Linked DNA regions of Homo sapiens. The protein of the gene in region 2 interacts with the protein of the main gene of each other region in a pairwise test. Each region holds a gene or a part of one and is shown on either strand. Other genes may lie near its edges.

Evidence for each region. The genes of interacting proteins can lie anywhere in the genome.
Region 1: the proteins of STOM (region 2) and THSD7B interact in binary tests that used the Homo sapiens proteins (3 or more experiments, as listed by UniProt).

Annotation. Positions count from the first base shown.
Region 1 is NC_000002.12:137,054,395-137,062,544, forward strand, and holds part of THSD7B (thrombospondin type-1 domain-containing protein 7B precursor), read left to right. Parts: intron 1-2,025; coding exon 2,026-2,836; intron 2,837-8,150.
Region 2 is NC_000009.12:121,345,293-121,354,592, reverse strand, and holds part of STOM (stomatin), read left to right. Parts: intron 1-1,290; coding exon 1,291-1,373; intron 1,374-5,269; coding exon 5,270-5,473; intron 5,474-6,443; coding exon 6,444-6,578; intron 6,579-9,300. UniProt on the Homo sapiens protein: Regulates ion channel activity and transmembrane ion transport. Regulates ASIC2 and ASIC3 channel activity.

The DNA.
Region 1 (8,150 bases), on a different chromosome or scaffold from region 2:
ATGGCTAGAACAGGGATGTGAGGAAGAATTGAGATGATTAGTTGCATTAGAACCGGACCCTTTTGTCCTACTAAAGTGACAGATCCTCATTTTAGTGTGTGGCCCCAGTGCAGATAACCTGCTTCTCTGGGGATGTATATGTTTCTTCCTAAATGCATGTGATTACGTACATGTCTACTATTTGTACAAATGTAGTGGATGCTAATGAAAATATTTTTCATGGAGTAATTAAACATCATTTGGGGAAGCTGGTCAGATTCAGGGAAAGAGAGAGAGCTTGTGTAAATTCATATGCCTCTTAGGGTCTGAAGTGCCTTATGATCATCACAGTCCTGAGACAGGGGCAAAGGTACCTAGTTAAGCTGATAAAACTTTTTTTTTTTTTTAATTTTAAGTTCTGGGATATGTGTGCTGAACATGCAGGTTTGTTACATAGGTATACATGTGCCATGGTGGTTTGCTGCACCTGTCAACCCATCATCTAGGTTTTAAGCCCCGCATGCATTAGGTATTCGTCTTAATGCTCTCCCCACCCTTGCCCCCCATACCACGACAGGCCCTGGTGGGTGATATTCCCCTCCCTGTGTCCATGTGTTCTCATTGTTCAACTCCCACTTATGAGTGAGAACATGCAGTGTTTGGTTTTCTATTCCTGTGTTCGTTTGCTGAGGATGATGGTTTCCAGCTTCATCCACGTCCCTGTGAAGGACATGAACTCATTCTTTTTTATGGCTGCATAGTATTCCATGGTGTACGTGTGCCACATTTTCTTTATCCGGTCTATAATTGATGGGCATTTGGGTTGGTTCCAAGTCTTTGCTATTGTGAATAGTGCTGCAATAAACATACGTGTGCATGTGTCTTTATAGTAGAATGATTTATAATCCTTTGGGATCAATCCTTTATACCCAGTAATGAGATTGCTGGGTTGAATGGTATTTCTGGTTCTAGATCCTTGAGGAATCACCACACTGTCTTTCACTATGGTTGAACTAATTTACACTCCCACCAACAGGTTCAGATTACATATTTAAATAAAATGAAAGAGAAGAAACTATTTTTTTCATTGTTGTTGACACAAAATGTGATTACTTACTGTCCTTGTGAAAAGATACCAACTTTCTGGATAAGGCCTGCTGGTATGTCTGTAGATGAGATGCAAAAAATATGATAAACGTCAATGGGCAGCTCCCTCATCTGTCCATTTCTTGGACTCTTACCTACACAAATGAATTAGTTAATTAAAAGATCTGGCATATTACAAGCTAATGTTGGAAACTGTACCTGGATCAGTACCCATCAGAAATCAAAATGAGTACACTTCAAGGATTCTAGGGGCAGAATTTCCACAGACAATTCAGTGCTGCTGCTTCTCTTATTACCTTACCTTTCCCCTGCACCCCATTGTTATTTTCATGCAATTCTCTCTGCAAGTACTAACCAAAACTGAGGACAATTATTTTGAAAATGAAAATAGGATACTTTGGCAACTTAGGGTGTTAAACATATCTCTCTTCTGAGCTTCTTAGAGTTTGAGCTGAAAGACTGGAAATATGAAAAATTCTACTTTATTAAAATCCTGGCTTTAGGGCTTTTCTTTTGAATGAAACACCACCTCAGTGGAAAGTATTAATATTGAGTTAGATGTATAGGCTTTGGAACGTAGTAGTTATAATGGTACCAATCATTTATTAAATTTGTATTGTCTACTTGACACATTGTATCATTTATCTTCAGAGCAATTCTACAAGTCGGTGCTTTTATTATCTTCTACCTTATATAGGTGAGGAACTTTCTAAGGCTTAGAAAGTTGAAATAATTCATCCAAGTTTACATTACTGATGGAATGCTTATTTCAACAAGAGTGTCCACATTCTGAACCACTAAATTATGTTGTCTCTGTTCCACCAAAATTCCTAATTTCATACTGCTTGTGTTGGAAAGTGTGTTAATTGACTTCTACTTACCTGTGAATTGCTGAATGTAATCTCTGAGTAATTAACATCCTTGTTTTTCTGCCTGTAGGTCCGTGGGGAAGGTGTACAGGAGACTGTGGTCCCGGAGGAGTCCAGAGTCGGGCAGTGTGGTGTTTTCATGTTGACGGGTGGACAAGTCACCTGTCTAACTGTGGTGAGAGCAACAGGCCTCCAAAGGAAAGAAGTTGTTTCCGAGTTTGTGACTGGCACAGTGACCTCTTTCAGTGGGAGGTTTCTGACTGGCACCACTGTGTGCTTGTTCCTTACGCTCGCGGTGAAGTCAAGCCTCGGACTGCAGAGTGTGTGACGGCTCAGCATGGACTGCAGCACCGGATGGTGCGCTGCATTCAGAAGCTGAACCGAACTGTGGTTGCAAATGAAATATGCGAACACTTTGCCCTTCAGCCTCCTACAGAACAGGCTTGCCTCATTCCTTGTCCCCGGGATTGTGTAGTATCTGAGTTCTTACCATGGTCCAACTGTAGCAAGGGATGTGGGAAGAAATTGCAGCATAGAACTCGCGCGGTCATAGCTCCCCCTCTCTTTGGTGGTTTGCAATGTCCAAATCTGACTGAGTCAAGAGCCTGTGATGCTCCCATTTCCTGTCCTCTTGGGGAAGAGGAATATACATTTAGCCTTAAGGTTGGACCATGGAGTAAATGCAGACTGCCTCATCTTAAAGAAATTAATCCAAGCGGAAGAACTGTTCTGGATTTTAACTCTGATTCAAATGAGCGAGTCACCTTTAAACATCAAAGTTACAAAGCACATCATCATTCGAAGTCTTGGGCAATAGAGATAGGTTATCAAACCCGGCAGGTTTCGTGTACAAGAAGTGATGGACAAAATGCTATGTTAAGGTAGGAGACCTTTGATGCTTGAATTTGATTCACCTAAAATATTTTATAGTGCAACTTTATAAAGCTTCTTTATGATTTTCTACAAAGCGAAAATGGCAACGAGGTTTATAATTTAGGTTTTTAGAAGTTTCATGTAAGAAATTTTTAATTTCACTGGGAGGTTTTCAAAATTGCATAGTTTAGACCAAGCAGTGTTCTAGCATTCTTGTGTGATTAGTAATGCAATTATATATATAGGATAAGTCATATATTTCCACATTTTATCAAGACAGTAACTAGTATAAAAATAGATCTGCCATTACAACAGTGATAGAAGACTAAGGGGCTTCTCATAATGATAAAAATTCAAGTTCAATTTCAAATGTGGGATATGAATTATGTAAATATTTTTGTTTTTCAGAACATTTGTCCTTTAAAATTTTATTTTTGTTTTTATTTGTTTACTTTTGTTTCCACTGTTATCAACATTCTTTGACATCTGTGTTGTACATTTTTTATACTAGCAATAATACCGAAAAGTTGTTCCAAGAGTGCTTTCTTTGGCGTTATTTTGATACAGGTATTAACTTGCGCAAGCAGTAATTAGAATGACGTACTGGAGAAGAAATAAACTATTAAAGCAACAGCTTAGGTTTCAAATTTATGCTTGTTTTATTTTAAATTGTAGTCTAAAACATCATGACATAAACTCACAGAAATATATTGAAAGTAGTATTTGTTTAATTTTACCTCAGAGGGTCTTAAATGAAGCATTTGTGTATTACTAAGTTTCTTCCAAATTAAGATGCCTTTCAATAGTACTTAAATTACCAAACAACATAATGCTTGTCTTTAGAATTAATCATTCTCATCAGTTGCTGCCTTCTTGGGATCCACAGCTGACCAGGAGATGCCCAGAAGACTACCACTGTTGTTTATGAACAAAGTAATGTGATGATTGTTTTTTTTTCCATTTGACTTCACAAATGAGTATATTTTATCCTTGATACTTCATTCTGATTTGTGCCATATGAAATTAGCAAGTCCACTGAAGAGTGATTTGCAGCTTTTTATTGCCTACTTCTTTGAAGTCCAGATTAAGCAAAAGATTCATGCAATTTGTTTGAATGTGTGTGGGGTTGTGTAAATACATTGTTTTCTTAATATTCCGTACTGTATTGCTGAAGTGAGCATTACATAGAATCTTTTCATTTTGTTTGTGCATTTTTGCAGTGTTTTTCTTTTTTTAATAGACTTGATTTTTCAGATCAATTTTTAAATTTTCAGAAAAAATGAGTGAAAGTACTGAGTTCCTGTATACTCCCTGTCTCCAACATATAGTTTTTTCCTATTATTAACATCTTGCATTCATGTGATAGTTTCATAAACAAACATTTCATAGTTACATACACAAACATTGAGTGCATAACACAGTTCAAATTGTGTTCCCCTCCCCAAATTTATGTATCGAAATTCTAACCATGAGTGTAATGTTTTTAGGAGGCATGGGGCCTTTGGGAGGTAATTATGTCGTGATGATGCAGTTCTCATAGATGGGATTAGTGCGCCATGAGAGCTTCCTCTCACTCTTTTTCTGCCATTTGAGGATACAATGTGAAGTCAGCAGTCTGCAAGCCAGAAGAGAGAACCCACCAGAATGTGACTATGCTGGTACCCTGGTCTCAGACTTCCAGCCTCTAGAACTGTGAGAAATAGATTTCTGTTGTTTTTTAAGCCATCCAGCTTCTGGTACTTTGTTATAGCAGCTTGAATTGCCGAAGACTAACTGTTATAAAAATAAATACCATAGTTTGGGAATTTAAATGAGAAATTTATTTCCACAGTTCTGGAGGCTGGAAAGTCCAAATTCAAGGTGTGTCTTGATTTAGTTCGTGATGAAGGTTGTCTTCTTGTCTTAAAGATGGCCATCTTCTTGCTGTGTCCTCACATGGTGGGGGAGAGAGAGAAAAAAAGAGAGCACTCTATGTCTCTTCTTATAAGGTCACCAATCCTATCACAAGGGCTCCACTCTCATGACCTGATTACATTAGAAATTTCCCATATTCAAAATGGAGGTTAGAGTTTCAACATTTGAATTTTGGAGGAACACAATTCAGTGTGCAGCAGGTACATTGGTTACAATTGATGAGCTAATATTGATATATTACTGTTAATAAAGACTATAGTTTACATTAGGATTCATCCTTTGTATTGTACATTCTATTGGTTTGACAAATGAATAATGACATGGATCCACAATTACGGTATCATACAGAGTAGTTTTACTCCCCTAAGTATCCCTTCTACTCTATTTACTCATCCTTCCCTCTCTCCCTGAGAACCCCTGGCAACTACTGACCATTTTACTGACTGTCCCCAAAGTTTTGCCTTTTTAAAAAATGTTATATAGTTAGAATTATATATGTAGCTTTTTCTGGTTGACTTATTTCACTTTGCAATACGCATTTAAGTTTGTTCCATGTCTGTTTGTGACTTGGTAGCTTATTTCTTTTTATCACTGAATAATATTCCATTTTGTGGTACTATAGTTTGTTCATTCACCTACTGAAGTACATCTTGGTTGCTATCAAGTTTTGGCAATTTTGAATAAAGCTGCTATAAAAGTTTATGTGTGTAATTTTTTGTGAACATAGGTTTTCAAGTCATTTGGGTTAATATCAAGTAGTGCAATTGCTGTATGGTATAGCAAGAGTATGTTTAGTTTTGTAAGAAACTGCCCAGCTGTCTTCCAGAATGGCTGTGCCACTTTGCAATGCCACCAGCAATTAGTGGAAGTTCTATTTTGTCACATCACTGGGATTTGTTGTCAGTATTTTGGAGTTTTGCCATTCGAATAGGTGTGTAATGGTATCTCATTGTTTTAAATTGCGATTCCTTAATGACATGTGATGCTGAACATCTTTTCATACACTTGCTTGCCATCTGTATATATTATTTGATAAGGTGTCTATTCAGATGTTTTGTCTATTTTTTAATTGAGTTGTTTTCTTATTGTTGAATTTTAAGAGTTATTTGTATATTTTGGATACCAGTCCTTTATCAGATATGTGTTTTGCAAATATTTTTGACAGTCTATGATTTGTGTTTTCATTTTCTTGATGGTGTTGTTCACAGAGAAAATATTTTTAATTTTAATGAAGTCCAACTTCTCAATATTTTTTCAAGGATCTTTTTTTTTTGGTGTTGTTTAAAAATATCACTAAACCCAAAGTCAACTCAATTTTTCTCTTATATTTTCTTCTACGAGTTGCATAATTTTGTTTATTATATTTAGGTCTATCATTCATTTTGAGGTTTTTTGGTGAAAGGTATAGGGTCTATGTCTGCATTCTTTTTAAAAAAGATTATTATATGTTCAGTTGTTCCAGCACCATTTATTGTAAAGAATATCTTTTCTCTATTGAGTTACCTATGCTTTTTTGACAAAGATCAATTGACTATGTTGATATGAGTCTGTTCTATGCCTTCAATTTTTATTCTATTTTACTATCTATTATTTGTTAGTAACACAATGTTTTGAGTAATGTAGTTTTATAGTAAATTGTAAAGCAGAGAAGTGTCAGTCTTCCTATTTTTTTTCTTCCTATGTGTTGTCTGCAGTGAATCTTTTGCTTTTTCATATAAACTTTGGAACTACTTTTTGATATCCACAAAATAACTTCCAAGATTTTGATTGGGATTGCATGTAATGGAAGATCAATTTGGGAAGAACTAATATATTGATAATACTGAGTCATCCTATTCTGGTACATAGGATATCTCTCCATTTATTTAATTCTTGTTTATTTTGTCAGGGTCTTGGAGGGTTTTTTAAAAAAAATATATCTTGTACATATTGTGTCAGATTTAGATTAATTTACCTTTTTTGGTGCTAACATAAATGGTATTGTGTTTTTAATTTCATATTGCAATTGTGCATTGCTGGTATAATAAGAAAACCGTTAACTTTTTATATTAACCTTGCATCCTGCAACTTTGTTATAGTCACTTATTATCCAGAGATTTTCATTGCTGTAGTTGTTGATTTTTTGAGATTACTTACATAAATAAGCATGTCAGCATGTCATCTGCAAAAAAAAAAGGAAAAATTATTGCTTTCTTTCCAATCTGAATATGTTTTCTTTATTTTATTTTCTTGTCTTCATTAGCCAAGACTTCCAGTACAATGTTATACAGGAGTGATGAGAAAGGACATTCTTTTTTTTTTGTACTGGGAAAGAAATCTATGCTGTCACCATTAAGTGTTTTGTTAGCTATAGGTTTTTTTTTTTTGTAGGTGTTTTGATCAAGTCAAGGAAGTTCCCCTTCATTCTTAGTTTTCTGAGAATTTTCCTTATAAATAATCATTAGATTTTGTTAAATATTTTTTCTGCCTCTATTGATCTGATTATATGATTTTTGTTCATTAGCCTGTTTATGTTATGGATTACATTAATTGATTTTCAAATGTTGAACCAGCCTTGTGTATGTGGAATAAATCCCACTTAGCTGCGACGTAAATTCCTTTTACATAGTGTTGGATTTGACTTGCTAGTATTTTATTGAGACTTATTTCATGTATGTTTATGAGAAATGTTGATCTTTGTTGTCCTTACTTGTAATGTCTTTGTTGTGATGTTAGGGTAATGCTGCCCTCTTCGAATGAATTGGAAAGTATTTTCTGTGCTTTCATTTTCTGAAAGAAATTGTTGAGAATTGGTATAATTTTTCCCTTGAATGTTTGGTAGTGAACCCTCTGGACCTCATGCTTTCTGATTTGGAAAGTTACTAAATACTGGTTTAATTTCTTTTAACAGATTTAGGACTATTCGTATCATCGATTTCTCTTTGTGTGTTTTGCTAGATTTTGTCTTTCAAGGAATTGGCTCATTTCATCTAGATTATCAAATTTAGGGACATAGAGTTGTTCATAATATCCCTTTTTCCTTTTAATAGCTATGGGATTATTAATGATTACCCTTCTTAAGTTTCCAGTATTAATAATTTGTATCCTCTCTTTTTTTTCCTAACCTGGCTAGAGGTTCATTAATTTTATCAGTGCTTTTAAAAACCAGCTTTTGGTTTTGTTGATTTTTTTCTATTGATTTTTTTTCTAATTTCATTGATTTTGACTCTGATTTTATTATTTCTTTTCTTCTGCTTACTTTAGATTTAATTGCTCTTCTTTTTCTAGTTTCCTAAGGTGGAAACTTAGGTTACTCATTTGAGATCTCTCTTCTTTACTATTAGATGCATTCAATTTCCTCAAGCCCTTTCTCTTTGTTCCACAAATTCTGATAATTTGCATTATTTTCATGTAGTTCTAAATATTTTT
Region 2 (9,300 bases):
TGGGATTCTAGATTGTTTATCTGAAAACTAAAGTTCTTTTTATTTTTTTTATTTTTAGGTAGTTGTTTTTTTAAAGACAGGGTTTCATTCCGTCGCCCAGGCTGGAGTACAGTGGCATGCTCATGTCTCACTGCAGCCTTGAACTCCTGACCTCAAGCAATCATCCCACCCCAGCTTCCCAAAGCACTAGGATTACAGACGTGAGCCACCGTGCCCAGTCTAAAATTTTTTTATTGACGTGATTTCCCTTATGAGGGCCTCTTCTACTCTGTCTTAGATAAGAGTTCATGTAGCAGGAGTTGTATAACAATAGCAGTGGTTCTAGCCAATCTTTTGTTACCCTTTCCTTCCTACCCTTCCCCTCCCCTTCCCATTTGAGCTGATAAGATTACCACCTAGGCCAAGAACAGTACAGCTATACAAGTTTGAGCATGAGAATCTCTACCAAAGAAAGACTTTCAGTCATTCATTTGGCAAACTTCAATTAAGCTCCTACTGTGTTCCAGGTTCTGGGAATTCAAGGGAGACTAAAACACAGTCCCTACCCTCAAGGATCTTCCTATCTAGTGGTAGGAACCAACAAGGAAACAGATAGCTACAATCCTATGTGATAAGTATTATGATCAAGTACTCACAGAGAGCTGTGAGAAAAGAGAAAACCAGAGAAGTGTTACTGATCTGAACTAGTCGTAGGCTGAGTCAAGGCTTTCTGGAAGTTACATCTTGACTGAGTCTTGAGGTCTGAAAAGGTGTTAACCAACAGGAGGTGTTTGCGGCGGAAATAGCAACATACACAAAGCAACAAAGAGGAGAGTATTGCAGATTCAAGAAACTGCAAGTAGATCAGTCCAGCAAGAGTGCAGGGTGTGAAGAGAGAGGAAGTGGCTGAAGAGGGGAACAAAGGCGGGTTATGCAGGACCATGCGTGGGGGAGGGTTTGTATTTTAGGGGGGATTGCTCGGCTTGCAGCTTAGGAAATAGATTATAGGAGAGAAACTACAAAAAATAGAAAGATGGCCTGGGAAACGATTGCATTGGTCCCAGTGGGGCGGTGGGGAGAAGAGTGATAGCAACAGTAGATTAAGGAAATGAACTCCACAGACCTTAGTGGAGACAGTCAAATGTGGGAAGTAAGCAAGAGGAATCAAAGTTATCATTCCTGGCTTCTGGCTCATTCACGAAGATGAACTGGTGACTTTTCAGTTCACTAGGTTGATTTTCTTAAAACTGAATGGAGAAGTGAACTGATTAGGTTGCTGGTGTCTGTATAATGTGTGTATCTTTGTTGCAGGTTTGTTTTTTATTCTGCCATGCACTGACAGCTTCATCAAAGTGGACATGAGAACTATTTCATTTGATATTCCTCCTCAGGAGGTAAGGTTTTCTTTGAATAACTGAGGTATCATATGTGAAAGTGCTTTACAATGAGGGACAGAATAGTTAGAGTGTAGGCTTTATTTATTTATTTATTTTAAATTTTTGTTTGTTTGTTTGTTTGTTTTAATTGGAATCTTGCTCTGTCACCCAGGCTGAAGTGCAGTAGTGTGATCTCAGCTCACTGCAACCTCCGCCGCCTGGGTTCAAGTGATTCTCGTGCCTCAGCCTCCCGAGTAGCTGAGACTATAGATGTGCGCCACCACGCCCGGCTAATTTTTTTGTATTTTTAGTAGACACGGGATTTTGCCATGTTGGCCAGGCTGGTCTCGAACTCCTGACCTCAGGTGATCCGTTCTGGCCTCCTAAAGTGCTGGGATTACAGGCATGAGCCACCGTTCCCTGCCAGAGCACAGGCTTTAGACCTTGACTGCCTTCAGCATTTCTAGCTCAGTGACCTTAAGCAAGTTCTTTAACTTTTCTGTGCCTCAGTTTCCTCATCCAGAAAATAGACATTTGTAATAGTAAGAACTACTGTATAAGGTGGTTCTGAGAAGTGAGATATATGTGCCAAGTGCTTAGAGCAATGGCTGACAAATAGTAAGTGCTATATAAGTTCTTACTGTTACTATTACAGTTGGCCCTTTGCATGCATGGGTTTTGCATACAGGGATTCAGCCAACCGCAGACTGAAAATATTAGGAAAAAACTCCACAAAGTTCCAAAAAGCAAAACTTGAATTTGCCATGCATCAAGCATGGCATTGAATCCACATGAATAAAGTGATGTGTAGGTATTGTATTGGATAATAGAAGTAATCTAGAGATGATTTAAAGTGTACAGGAAAATGTACATAGATTATACGGTTGGCTCCATGGATCAAAAATATTTAGGGAAAAAAGCAATTGACAATGATACAATAATACAAATTTTTAAAAACGGTGTAGTATAGCAACTATTTATGTAGTATTTACATTGTGTTAAGTATTATAAGTACTTCAGAAAGGATTTAATGTATAAAGGAGGATGTGCATAAGTTATATGCAAATATTGTGCCACTGTATATAAGAGACTTGAGCATCCTTGGATTTTGGTATCCTCTGAGGGTCCTAGAATCAATCTCCCACAGATACCGAGGAATGATTATTACAAAACATAGTGTAATGCTAATGTAAGTATAATAATATCATCATTGTTATTACTATCAACATTTTTACTACCACATTTCTCTTCTATGGGTTTCTGATAGAAAACCCTATTAGTTCATTATTTTTTTTCTTAAGGTTTTATTCTAGATAAATTGGTTAGAAACCAAAGAATTAGAAACTGCTTGTTGGGCATTTTAGATAAAACATAATATTTTATACTAGTGATTATTTTGTGCCTTTTCAAACTACTTCACAAGTATTATCATAGATGAAACTCATGGCAGAATCCCTAGAAAGTATATAGTTGCAGTGAAACAAAGGAATTCCTCCAGATTACAGTGGCAGAGCCAAGACTAAAATTGAGCTCTTCGGATTCTTTGTATAGTGCTGTTTTTTCCACAGCTCCATGCTAAATGCATTGTACATGAGCTCCCTCATAGCCCCCGAAAAAGTGATGGCCATCCTGGGAACCATGTCCTTAGGAGACTTAATAACCGTTGCATACAGAAAACCTGAAAACATCATGAAGGGGGAAGGACAGAAGAATGCTGTCAGTGTTTCCTGGCCAAAGGCCAGATACTCAGCATGGTGATGGAGCCTGGCCATGTTGCCTTCTCATGTCACAAATACCAGAAACCAGCTTAGGAACTTCCTTGTTGGTACTGATCCAAGAAGTGGGTGGGGTCAGACTTTATAATCCACCCAAAGTTAGTGATGCCAGGAATCATTTTGCCCACATTTTACTCATAAGAACAAGACTGAGAGTATCACTGTATTCTCTGTGTGTTTTCCCATCGTCTAAGGAAGATTGAGTCTCAGAAGGAGCCCTTCAGGGTAGCTGGACATTCTGGCATTTTCCACTATAAACATTACAGACATCTGGCAGAGTTGCTGTTTAAGCTTCTGCTTTCCAGTGGCCCTCTCCTATTCTGCAAGCTGCTGAATGCAAAGCAGATTGGAACTTGGCAGCAATCCTTTTTCTGATCCCCTGTGAAGTTTCTGTGAAGGGAGATAAACCCTTGCCGATGATAAACAGTAGGCAGAGAAGCTGTAGCTTTAGAAAGAAGCTGTGGCAAAGTCAAAGTGGCAAGAATTTGGGAATGACACACATTTTCCCATCATGTCATGGGAAATAATTAGTTTTCATACAAGATGGTAATACACTGTACATTTATTTATAAATCCTCCACTTCTCTTCCATGTTAGAAGTATTTTGAGATTACTAAAAAAGGATCACTGCTTTGATGTCTGGCAGGGCTAAACAGCCATGTTACAACATTGTTATTATTACCTTCCATTTTCATAGCTGTTTACTCTTTCAAAAGGGCTTCATTCACAAGTATGTTCTTATTTGATCTTCACAGAAATTTGGATAGAATTAGGCAGTATTATTAGCGCCATCTCACAAATGAGGAATCTGTTGGTCAAATGGGTTAAAAACCTTGCTAGAGGCCATCCAGGGACCTGAAGGCAGAGATGGGACTCAGTTCAGGTCTCCTAACTCTCACTGCTGTGTTCCTCATCGGTCACTGTTCTCAGGACCACATTTCAGTTCAGCTCCTCTCTCATTTATTGACTACCCGCTATGTTTCAAGCACTCTGCCAGTGTTAGAGTTACAAAGAATTGCCCTGAAGAAATTCATAGTCTAAGAGAGAAGTAGAAATGTGAATAAATAATGTCACTACAGTAAGGTGCAGTGGATGTGCAAGGGAAGAGTGCTTAACTCTGCCAAGTAAGCCAAGAAAGTTTCACAGAGAGAAGGACATTTAAATGATCAGTAGAAAGGTGCCAGCCTGATGTTGTTAGTGAGAGAGGCTGGAATTCCCAGGCTGGAGCAATCTTCCTGCCTCAGCCTCCTGAGTGGCTGAAACTACAGGTGTATGCCATCATGCCCAGCTGGCTTGTTTATTATTATCTAAATTAACTTATTACAGTTAATCAAGTCAGTGTTTTATTCAGTAAAGTTACCACCATTATCCAAGATGAAATAATAAGACAGCTCTTACGTGCCAGGAACTTTTCTGAGCACTTGAATGTATTTAACGCATTAATTCTAGCAAGAATGCAAAGTAGGTACTATAATTAATCTCTACTTTACAAATGAGAAAACTGAGTCCCAGTGAGTTTTAAGTGATGGATGTAACTATTTTCCTGGAGCCTCTCACTCAGATAACTTCTTAGCTTAAAACAAAAATATGTCATGTTTAGCATTTTTATGTAGCATGCTGTAAAATATGTTTTGATGCTGACCTTGCCCTTTAAAAACATTCCCCATGCACTTTTTGTTCCAGTAATATTGTGGAACTTGTAGTTTATCAAACCTTGACTCTCTAGTGCCTCTCTCTTGAATATTCTTCCACTCCACCCAACACCCTCAGAAAAATTGTATTCCTTTCTTCAAGATTCAATTCAGGTATCACCCCTGCCACCCACAGCTGCCCCTAAGAGTTTCCTTTGATTCCCTAACCTCCTTCAAAGGAGGAACCAAGTTTTTTTCCTACCTTAATCCCTGGTACCTAGTACAGTGCCTGCTGTTGAGTGATATCTCAATATTATTTGTATGATTGAATGAATTAATGGACTTGAATAATTTATTTTATTAAATTTTAAAAGATATAATTAACTTTCTGATGCCTTACTAAAGAAAATCAGCTAGTGTTATAAGATATTCTGTAGAATAACATTCCTTACAGTTATGTTAAAAAAAAGTCGTTGACAGATGTAAAATTGCTTCCTTCATCTTGTAGATCCTCACAAAGGATTCAGTGACAATTAGCGTGGATGGTGTGGTCTATTACCGCGTTCAGAATGCAACCCTGGCTGTGGCAAATATCACCAACGCTGACTCAGCAACCCGTCTTTTGGCACAAACTACTCTGAGGAATGTTCTGGGCACCAAGAATCTTTCTCAGATCCTCTCTGACAGAGAAGAAATTGCACACAACATGCAGGTGGGGAGTACGTCAATGCTGTTACCCCCCAGAAGCTGAAAAATGAAGCAAAGAGTCAATGGTTGTTTGAGAACCTTTTATTAATTCAAGTTGTGGGGGTCTGTGACCGTTTTTTTTTCTTCATAGTAAAATTTTTCAAATTTGGCAGGAGGGGACATTTTTCACATTAGCAGTTCATGAGTTCATAACACTCATGCGTACATTTTTTTAAAATTTTCTTCAGTGTGTATTTTTTTCCAGAATCAGTAATAACCTTTTTGTTTAGAACAGAGGCTATTCTGCAAGATAGTGTAGGTATTCCTAAAGCTTTATTCTGTGTGTGAGTCCCATGAATTATAACTGTTGTGCTTTCCAGTCTTTCTTGAGTAACAGATATTCAGTTAAGCATAGCTTATTCAAAAAAGATAAAGTGCTATAACTCTGGATTCTTATTATTTGTATAGACTTCATCGTGGGTAAAATCTATGATTGTATTTGATATGCACAACAACCTATGAAATAGATGTGTGGTTTCATTCCTGACATTCTAAAGGGAGGAAGTTGAAGCACAAAGGAGTAATATGACTTACACAGAGTCACATTAGCTCAGGAGTTGGCAAACTGTAGCCTACAGGCTGTAGTTTTTGTAAGTAAAGTTTGACTGGAGTATAGCCACAGCCATTTATTTATATATTATCCATGGCTGCTTTTGACTACAACAGCTGGGTTAAATAGTTGAGACAGAGACTACAAATAAACAATCACTATATGGCCCTTTTAGAAGAAGCTGCTAACCCCTGCATTAGCTTGTTAGCAACAGAATCAGGATCAGTGAGCCAGCCCCTGCGTCACCATTCGTTCCACCGTGGGGTAACTGTCTCTCCACAACTCTCCCCAGCACCTTATCTCCTCCAAATCCCAATGAATACAGCCTCTGTCAGCATCTGGGCTGGGCTGAGGAGATTTAGCTTGCCTTCTCTCTTCCTAACAGTCTACTCTGGATGATGCCACTGATGCCTGGGGAATAAAGGTGGAGCGTGTGGAAATTAAGGATGTGAAACTACCTGTGCAGCTCCAGAGAGCTATGGCTGCAGAAGCAGAAGCGTCCCGCGAGGCCCGCGCCAAGGTAACTTTTTTTTTAAACTTGTTTTTCTTACTGAGTTTTCTCTTTTATTAATAATTATAAAAAAACGTAAAACATGCTTGCTGTAAAAACTTGAAATAATCTTGAAGTGGTAAAGTTAGAAGTGAAAACCCTCCCCGTAACTTCAAATCATATTCCCCCAGAGGTCACCACTCCTAACAGTTGAGTGTATTTGGATTTTATTTGACCAGGTTTTTGGATTACTGGCTTGTTTGTTTTACAAAAGTAGGGTTATACTGCACATGTTGTTCTGCGCTCTGCTTTTTTCATTTAATATTAATATCTATGGACGTATCAGTACATGTAGAGTTACCTCATTCTTTTATGACTGTGTGTACCATACTTATTCTCCCGATTCCATATTAAGGTCAAATTAACAGTTCCAACTTCGGAGCAAGTGGGTCATCATTCCATCCATACCACCCATCTCTTACTTATTTTTGGCTTCTTTTTTGTTCTGTTTCTTTTCTCAGGCTCTTTTTCCCTTTTACTGTTTCCTATTCCTCATTCTCTCTTTTCCTCTTGTTTATATTCTCTTACTTTGACATCTGCCTTTTTTCTTCCTTCTTTTCATCATCATCTGCCTATGTCTTAACCCTGCATGGGTGGCATGGCCCCTCTGGGAGGCACTGAGGAAATATTTGTTAACCTAACCTAGAAAAGAGTATCTTTAAAGATGATAATGTGTAAAATTTCAGGGATATCTCACCAAACCCAAAGGTAGGAAGTAGGGGCAAGTCTCACCAAAATTGGAACCAGAAGGCAGTTCAGGGAACTAGTCATTCCCTTTCCTGTGCCACATCTCACTGTAGATAGCTTGTGGTGGAGAATGTCTAGCTCCCAGGTTTAGATGTCTGCCAGGTGAACACTAAAGAACACAGACCAGCCCTAATTCCACATTCACAGAAGAGACAGTCTTTTTGGTCCAACTTTGGTCAAAGTGCAAAGATAGCATAATAATATGGTTCCACAGCCCTATGCCTGTGAATGGGCTGAAGAAGAAGAGCAGTTTTCATAGGAGGAGTTGCTGTGGACTTGACAAATCTCCCAAGACACAAGGAGCAAACCAATTTGTTGTTAGAAAATAGTAGTAGCTGGTCATCACTGGCTGACCACAGAACGCTGTTCTTTTCTTAGGATGCCCTTTAAGCCACAAACTGGTCACTATAATTTCTTAGCCAGCATCAAATAGGATAGTAGCTCATTTGACATGCGACTTCAGAATTTTGCATTAACCAAAATGTTTAGGTTTTCCTGGTATGATGATTGTTGCTTTGTGATGATAACCTGGTAGTACTACAGAACCCTCTAGTGCTTTCTTTCAAAACTGTTACGTTTAGAAGATTAAATTATGTTTACGATGTTATTAAATGTGCCCTATCATCTCCTTATTTTGAAAATTAGGAATTGCTTTTAACTAGAATATGTTATTAGGCAAAAGCCTCATTTCCAAACCAGATTGAATAGTAGAATGTACCATACATATACTACGTAGAATGTCAGAGCCCAAAGGATCCTCAGAGATTATCTTCCATAGGTGGCAAACACTTAGCCCAGATGCTAGCACTCCATCCTGCTATTCCCATGCTAGTAATTAACCACAGCACTGTTTTCCTCTGAGCTTAGACTTGGCCTCAGAACCCTTCTATAGCACTCTGGGTAACAACCCTCAACTGCTTAGAGTTAGCTCTAAAAAACAAAACTTGAGGCCAAGCACAGTGGCTCACGTCTGTAATCCCAGCACTTTGGGAGGCTGAGGTGGGTGGATCACCTGAGGTGAGGAGTTCAAGACCAGCCTGGCCACCATGGTGAAACCCCGTCCTTACTAAAAATACAAAGAGTAGCCTGGTGTGGTGGTAGGCGCCTGTAATCCCAGCTACTGGGGAGGCTGAGAAGGAGAATTGCTTGAACCCTGGAGGTGGAGGTTGCAGTGAGCTGAGATTGCGCCACTGCACTTCAGCCCAGGCGACAGAGCAAGACTTCTTCTCAAAAAAATTAAATTAAATAAAAAATTAATAATAATAAAAACTTAAAAAAAAATGAAACTTGTTTGCCATCCCACTATTCAAAGGAAAAATTGAAGCTCTGAAAAGTTAAGTGACGTCCGCAAGGTCGCACAGTTGATTAGTAGCAGTGGAAATTAGAATTCCCCTCTGCTCCTCATTGCCTCCTCTAGTACTGACTTCCCAGGATGGGCTATGAGCCTCTTCCATAGCATTCTTAAGAGTTTGGAAAGAAAATTTCTATCTTCCCTTTATAACAGTAAGAAAAGATAGAAGAAACCGCTTAGAATTCTGAATTGCCATGCTCCCACTTGGACGGGGCTGTAGGGTTAGTCTAGAAGCAGTCTCATGAACCTGGGCAGTGACTGTCTTGGAGTTCACACATAGAATCACAATGAGCCTAGCCCTTCTGTAAAATACAGTAACCCTGCAACAACCATAGGCTTATTGTATTGAAATTCTCATGGAAAATAGGGGGGTCACAGTTTCTTCAACAAATAAATTGCACAGGAAAGGTGAGATAGAGTGGAATAATCTAAAGATTAAGAGACTTTATAGAAAAATTCCTTAGGCTAATTAGCCATCGGGGAAATGCAAATTCACATTATAAGCGGATGTCACACTAGACAGCTATCAGAATGGCCTGAAAAGAACGGAAAAGAACCAAGTGTGGGTGAGAGAGGAACTAGAACTCTCATATT